Homo sapiens: one gene and its partner. The protein of the gene in region 2 purifies or fractionates together with the protein of the main gene of each other region. This does not show direct contact. Each region holds a gene or a part of one and is shown on either strand. Other genes may lie near its edges.

Region 1 (3,138 bases), about 190 Mb from region 2:
CACATGAGCAATATTGATTCCCAGCCATGTGAAGATTGGATAATGAAGTACACTCATACTTGTCACTTTTGCCAGCTGCTCCGAGTTGGGGATGTAGAGGTCCTCTAAGTAACACTGCTAGAGCAGGCCTATGGTCATGTGATTAACTCGTTTCAGCCTGCTGATCTCAGGCTGCTGAGAGCGCTGTGTAAGTTCAAAGAATCATTAAGTGGGACAAATACTATCTGTAGACAGGTCTGTTAAATCATTCCTTTACTCAGAGACAGCAAGTCCAGCATGGGTAGGTGCCATGAAGACAGATAAGAGTTATATGATACAGTCCCTGCCTTCACCAAATTATAAGCTGGGTAGGAAGCTATTGAGCAATGTGAAATAATTAGGAGATGATACCCAGTGTGTATAATTAAGCACCCGGGTACCAGGTGCAGTATGGATCAAAGGTTTGCAGGGACCATTAATCAAGTGAAGCTACAAGTGTTGGGAACCTTTCCTTGAAAGATGGACAAGAATTAAAGAGTATGGAGATGAGGCATCTAAGCTGAGTGAATTCCCTTTCCTCTGCACTCCCAGAGCTTTGAGTTGAGCCAGGGTGCCGCTCTGGCCTGTTGATTGGCAGCTCAGCTAATCATCCCTGGTTTTCCAGGCCTATCGCTGGATGATTGACTCCAGAGATGACTTCACAGAGGAGCGCCTGGCCAAGCTGCAGGACCCATTCTCTCTATACCGCTGCCACACCATCATGAACTGCACAAGGACCTGTCCTAAGGTACGTGGGGCTGGTGACCCTCAGCTCTGCCTCAGAGCTGACACGCCAGAAGTAGCATGTGCTCACAAAGAGGTGATTGGCAGAGAGCAACCCTAGTCATTTGAGAAGGAAAGGGACCAGCATATGCCTGTCCTTTCAGTGTGAGCCTAGGGGCTAGTTTGGCTCTTAGTTGCAAGGAGTAGACTGACTCGGGCCACCTCAGGAGCAGGCTTTATTTGTAGGCTACACAGGGACATTGTGGGAGTTAAGGATGCACAGGAACCCATGAGCAGGTACCTGCGTTCAACCTTCCCAGGAAACAGAAAGCGAAAGCCGTTGGAACGTGGGCAGCTGTGAGGACTTCATTTCTTCTCCATCTTTCTCGCGATGTCAGCTGCTAATCTGCTCTGCTCTCTAGCAGCCTGTTCTTTCCTTCGGCTCTGTGGAGGTTTTCTCTGACTCAAAGCTCTGGCTTTCGTTCCTCTTCCTGCTCGCATTTGCTGCTGCTTTTGGCTCACTCTGGCCTGGATTTTGCCTCCCAGCACACTTCCAGCTTCAGCCACCCGCCTGCCTCCCAGCACTTCTCAGCACAGTTTCCTGAGAGGGTGTCGCATTGGCCCAGCTCACCTTCTCATGCCTGCACATCAGAGGCCACAGCTGGCTACAGACCGGCTGCCCTTTGGCCAGGTTCTGTCTCAGTCTGTTTTGTGGTACTATCACAGAATTTCAGACTGGGTAATTTTATAAAGAAGTTTATTTGACGCACAGCTCTAGAGGCTGGCGCCAGCATCTAACAAGAACCTTCGTGCTGTATTACCCCATGGCAAAAGGCAGAAGGGCAAGAGAAAGGGAGCCCAAGCTCAGCCTTTTTTTTTTTTGGAGACAGAGTTTCGCTCTTGTTGCCCAGGCTGGAGTGCAATGGCACGATCGATCTCAGCTCACCACAACCTCCGCCTCCCAGGTTCAAGTGATTCTCCTGCATTCGCCTCCCGAGTAGCTGGGATTACAGGCAGGCACCACTCATGCCTGGCTAATTTTGTATTTTTAGTAGAGATAGGGTTTCTCTATGTTGGTCAGGCTGGTCTCGAACTCCCGACCTCAGGTGATCCACCCACCTTGGCCTCCCAAAGTGCTGGGATTACAGGCGTGAGCCACCGCGACCGGCCCCTCTCATCTGTTTTTTTTAAAAGACAGGGTCTCACTGTGTTGCCCAGGCTGGGGTGCAGTGGCGCAATCATAGCTCACTGCAGCCTGGAACTGCTGGCCTTAAGTGATCCTCCTACCTCCTGAGTAGCTGGGACTACAGGCACACACCACCACACCTGACTAATCCAAACTCATCCTTTTATCAGGAACTTACTCCTATGATAATGGCAATCCATTTGTGAGGGCAGAGCCTTCATAATCTAATCACTTCTTAAAGGTCCCACCTCTCAATACTGTTGCATTGGGGATTAGGTTTTCAACACATGAGCTTTTGGGGACACATTCAAACCATAGCAGGTGTCAGCCCTGGTCCAGTCAGCCTTGCCCAGTGGGCAGGGAAGGGCTAGGGCTGTGTGGTTCAGAACACGGCTGCCCTCCGAGCAAAGACTGTGGGTGATTTCACTCAAAAGTTGCAGTGAGTCAGTGGGCGGCAAGGTGGAAAACTGTAGGGTGGCCAGTTAGCCGTAAAAAAAGATCACACTGTGTGTTTGAAAACATGAAATCCAAGCTGTAGAATTCACTTATTTTTTGCCTGGAAACCCTCTGTGTTTCCAGTGGCCTCGCTGGGGGAGCCCACAGGCTTCAGCTCCCTATTGCCTGGGCTTCCATCTGGGTCCTGTCCCCAGGACTGTGGTTTACCATGATTGTGCCTGTGAATAGCTACTGACCTCTGAGGCAAGTTATGCTATAAAAGTGCTTGGAACAGTGCCTGGCACATAGTAAGCACCCAATAAATGTCACCTTATGTTATTTTTTAAAAAAACATGAGTACTGGGCTTGTTTGAGACAGAGATAGCATCTTCAGTGGTGGGGCCTGGCTGTGTGTTTCTTCAGAAGCTCTGCGAGTGACTCTAAGGTGCATTCCTGGTCACAAACCTGTGCATGGAGGGGATGGGTGCAGCAGACAACTGAGACAGCCAAGAACAGGTTCTCTGTGCCTTGCCCTCCCTTCTGTAAAACAGGGCTGGAAGTTGGGACTGAGACATAGACATAGGCCGATCATGAAACTGGAAGGGACTTGAAAACCATCAAGTTTAATCCCCTTATACAGATGGGGAAATTGAGCCCCAGGTGGGGAGGGGAGTGACTCGCCCCAGATCACTGTCAGGTCAGTGGGAAGGTAGGACTAGAGTTAGGCCGTCTGCCTCCCCATCCAGTGCTCTTTCTTCCTGCATGGATTGGGTATG
Region 2 (4,233 bases):
AGCACTTTCCCTGTGCCTCTCCTGCGGTGCTGTGTACTTTCTCTCTGGTGTCATCACTCAGCCACTGTCCTTTCTTCCTTGGTGACTCCGTGTGGTGGGTTCCTATTTGCTCCATCTCTGTGCTGTTCCCAGTGTCTAGTGCAAGGCTTTGCATGTGGTAGGCATGTAGGCATTTGCTGCATGAACGTGTGAACCATCAAGAAGACCCATTTCTCACCATGCCAACCCAGCATTCCTGGGTTAGAGCAGAAGTTCCAGTGCCACCAACTCCAGGTCCTAGGACAAACAGCTCTGAGTAGAGCTTCAAATCGCCTTTGGTCTATGATATGGTTTGGCTGTGTCCCCACCCAAAATCTCATCTTGAATTGTAATCTGAATTGTAATTCCCATGTGTTGGGGAAGAGACCTTGTGGGAGGTGATTAGATCATGGGAGTGGTTTCCCCATGCTGTTCTTATAATAGTGAGTGAGTTCTCAGAAGATCTGATGGTTTTATAAGGGGCTTTTCCTCACTTTGCTCTACACTTCTCTCCCCTGCTGCCATGTAAAGAAGGATGTGTTTACTTCCCCATCCACCCATGACTGTAAGTTTCCTGAGGCCTCCCCAGCCATGCGGAACCAATTAAACCTCTTTCCTTCATAAATTACCCAGTCTCAGGCAGTTCTTTATAGCATGAGAACAGATGAATACAGTCCATGACATGGTTCATGAAGGGGACACTAACAATCCTAAATCTCTGGGGGCTTCCCATTTTAACTTTGTGTCCCAAGCACAGCTCTCATGGCCAATGAGGTCCAGCTCCAGCAGATAAAGCATTTTTCACCAAGAAGGCATCTTGAGTCTTTGGGGCTCAGCTGGCTCATTCTCCAGTTGGAAAGCCAAGACTCAGAGAGGGGAAGTAACTGGCCCAAGGTCACAAAGTGAGAACCAGAACCAAGGCCTCAGGATGTCCTATTTACAGCTTTTTCCAAGTAGCAGGGGAAACACAAGCTGACCAACTTTTGACACCTCATCTGAGCAGAGTCAAGTCAAGGTTTACTCAGCATGCTTAGTGCATCCAAAGACAAAAGAACCAGGAATTGGGGATAGTGCATATGCATATGTGCATATATGGGTGAAACAAAGGGCCAGTTAAGCATGTATCCTACAACAGTTTTGCTTTACCTTGTTAAACACACACACACACACACACACACACACACACACACACACTATACATTTACATTTCTCTTATAGGAACAAGACATATTTATTGTAAAAAAAAAAAAGAATGTATTAAAAAGCATAGAGAAAAAAATTAAAATAATGTAATTTCCTACCAACCAGAATAACTTACATTTTTTAATTGACAGATAAAAATTGTACACACTTACCATGTACAACCTGTTGTTTTGAAATATGCACACATTGTGGAATGGCTAAATTGAGGTAATTAACATCTGCATTACCTCACATGCTTATTTTTTAGTAGTGAGAACACTTAATATAAACTCTATTAGGAATTTTCAAGAATACAATACATTGTTGTTAACTATAGTCACCATGCTGTATAATATATCTCTTGAATTTACTCCTAGCTAACTGAAATTTTTTATCCTCTAACATCTCCCCAACTGCCCACCCAGCCCAGCTCCTGGTAACCACCATTCTATTCTCTACTTCTACGAGTTCAATTTTTTTAGATTCCACATATAAGTGAGATCATATGGTATTTGTCTCTTTGCCTGGGTTATTTCACTTAACATAAGGTCCTCCAGGTTTACCCATGTTGTCATAAATTGTAAGTTTTTTTTTAAAGCTGAACAGTATCCGTTGTGTACATGTACCGATTTTCTTTACCCATTCATCCATTGATGGACACTTAGGTTGATTCCATATCTTGGCTACTGTGAACAAAGCTGCAGTGAACCTGGGAGTGTAGACATCTCTTCAACATACTGATTTCATTTCCTTTGTCTATATATCCTGTAGTGGAATTGCTGGAATTTTTAATATATTTCCTTCCAGGCGTTTTTCTATACAAGTGGGAACTCATTTAAGTGTTGGGTGGTATTGTGTGTACAGTTTACCATCTTCTGTTGTTTTTTTTTAAGTTATTATTATACTTTAAGTTCTAGGGTACATGTGCACAACATGCAGGTTTATTACATATGTACACATGCACCATGTTGTTGTGCTGCACCCATTAACTCATCATTTACATTAGGTATATCTCCTAATGCTATCCCACCCCCTGCCCCCACCCCGTGACAGGCCCCGGTGTGTGATGTTCCCCTTCCTGTGTCCAAGTGTTCTCACTGTTCAATTACGATCTATGAGTGAGAACATGCAGTGTTTGGTTTTTGTTCCTTGCAATAGTTTGCTGAGAATGTACCATCTTCTGTTTTCTATTTAGATCTTAAGGGATCCTAGGATCCTATTTAGATCCTAGGGCATGAGCATTTTCCCATATTATTGTAATATTCTCAAAAACTCCATTTAATGACTGCTTAATAATTCATTGTGTGCTATGATTTAACCACTGCTTTAGTGTTGGATGTTTATAAACAGTACAGTGAAGAACATTCTTGGACAAGAGTCTTTACCCACATTTCGGATAATTTCTTTAGGACAAATTCCTAGAAGTGGAGGGCAGGAACATTTTTAAGGCTCTCAACACTTGCTGCCAATAGCTTTCCAGAAACATGTATGAATTACACCCCCGCCAGCTGCATTAGAGAGGAGCCTTTTGATTCTGCAGTTGCAGCTAGACCTCGGGCTGGGGGAGGGGCACTCTTCCATCCAAAGCCTCTGGGCAGTCGTGACAATGGAACCCTTGTCCTGCCCACCCCCATCTCTTCTTCCTGCATGCCCCTCCATCCCTGGCTCCAGGCTGGGCTGTCTGCGAGGCCTCTGTTTAATCCTGTCCTGCCTTCTTGGCACTCCAGGCTGCCTCCAAGAGCAGGGTTGGTAGAGCTGAGGGATGAGAGATTTGCCTGTCCTGGAGAGTCACCACCCTTCCAGCTTTGGGGAGGCCCCCAGGGAAAGTGAGGGAGAAGATATATGAAGATTGCTGAATTACGTGCCTCCTTCGGAGAACCCCACCCAGTCCCGGGCCCAGGGCAGTAACTTGCCCATTGGAAAGGGGAAAGCAGAGGCCACACTCAGTGACAATGGCCACAAGGAACATTGGCTAGCATGTGGATGACCTCTGTTTCCTTACAGGCTCTGAAGCCCTTCCATGAATCCCCGGAAGAAGGTGGACCTGAAACTCATTATCGTCGGAGCCATTGGGTAAGCCAAGCTCAGCTCTGGGAGTTGGGAAGCAGCCCCTCACCCAAGGACAGTGAGACCTCCTGATGTGTTCCCATCTCCCATAGGTCCCTTTCTGATTCAGGGTGACACCAGCAACTGTATCCCATCCCCAGAAAAGAAGCTTAGTTGGGACAAAGAAGCTGCATGTAAACAGATGGTTTCCAGTCCTAGATCTGCAGTGACTCTGCAGTAACCAGCTGTGTGAATTAGGCAAGCCATTTAGCATCTATCTGTCCTCCCATGTCCTACACACACAGAAAAAACCTGACCACCACTGTGAGATATTCCACCGTCTCCAGACTACTCTGCTCACTTTGATTGGCTTCTACTTCTAGAAACCATTTCCTACTCCCTTGCTATTCAAAGTGTGGTCCATGGACCACAGAAATTTGAAATTCAGAATCTCAGGGAGAGACAGTGGCAAGAGGGGCCTGGGAAGATTCTGAGAATGGTAGGGAAGCATGTGCATGTGTGTTTGCATGTGTGTGTTCACATGTGTCTGGAATTTTCCTCAGTGTGGGAAAGACCTCCCTCCTTCACCAATATGTGCACAAGACGTTTTATGAGGAATACCAGACCACACTGGGGGCCAGCATCCTCTCCAAGATTATCATATTGGGTGACACAACTTTGAAGTTACAGGTGAGCAGCCCTCCTTTTCCCTCTTCAACATACATACACTGAAAATCCCCCCCAAGCCCGGACAGCCACTCATGTAGCAATGTGAACCAGAGCTAGAATGGTCTAGAGCAGAGATGAGCAAACTTCAGCTCATGGGCCAAATCTGATCCACCTCCTATTTTTGTAAATAAGACTTCACTGGGGCACAGCCATAACCATTGGTTAGCTTATCAAGTTATGCAGTACAATGGCAGAGTTGAGTAATAATTGGCATATAGAGACAGAATGACCTGCAAAGCCTAAAATATTTACTATCTG

What was found. The genes of interacting proteins can lie anywhere in the genome.
Region 1: the proteins of RAB7B (region 2) and SDHB purify together in Homo sapiens (affinity purification with mass spectrometry; one large-scale study listed by BioGRID and IntAct). This does not show direct contact.

The regions. Positions count from the first base shown.
Region 1 is NC_000001.11:17,020,236-17,023,373, reverse strand, and holds part of SDHB (succinate dehydrogenase [ubiquinone] iron-sulfur subunit, mitochondrial isoform 1 precursor), read left to right. Parts: intron 1-643; coding exon 644-766; intron 767-3,138. UniProt on the Homo sapiens protein: Iron-sulfur protein (IP) subunit of the succinate dehydrogenase complex (mitochondrial respiratory chain complex II), responsible for transferring electrons from succinate to ubiquinone (coenzyme Q).
Region 2 is NC_000001.11:205,993,123-205,997,355, reverse strand, and holds part of RAB7B (ras-related protein Rab-7b), read left to right. Parts: intron 1-2,898; exon of another isoform or gene 2,899-3,204; 5' UTR 3,205-3,220; coding exon 3,221-3,273; intron 3,274-3,809; coding exon 3,810-3,936; intron 3,937-4,233. UniProt on the Homo sapiens protein: Controls vesicular trafficking from endosomes to the trans-Golgi network (TGN). Acts as a negative regulator of TLR9 signaling and can suppress TLR9-triggered TNFA, IL6, and IFNB production in macrophages by promoting TLR9 lysosomal degradation.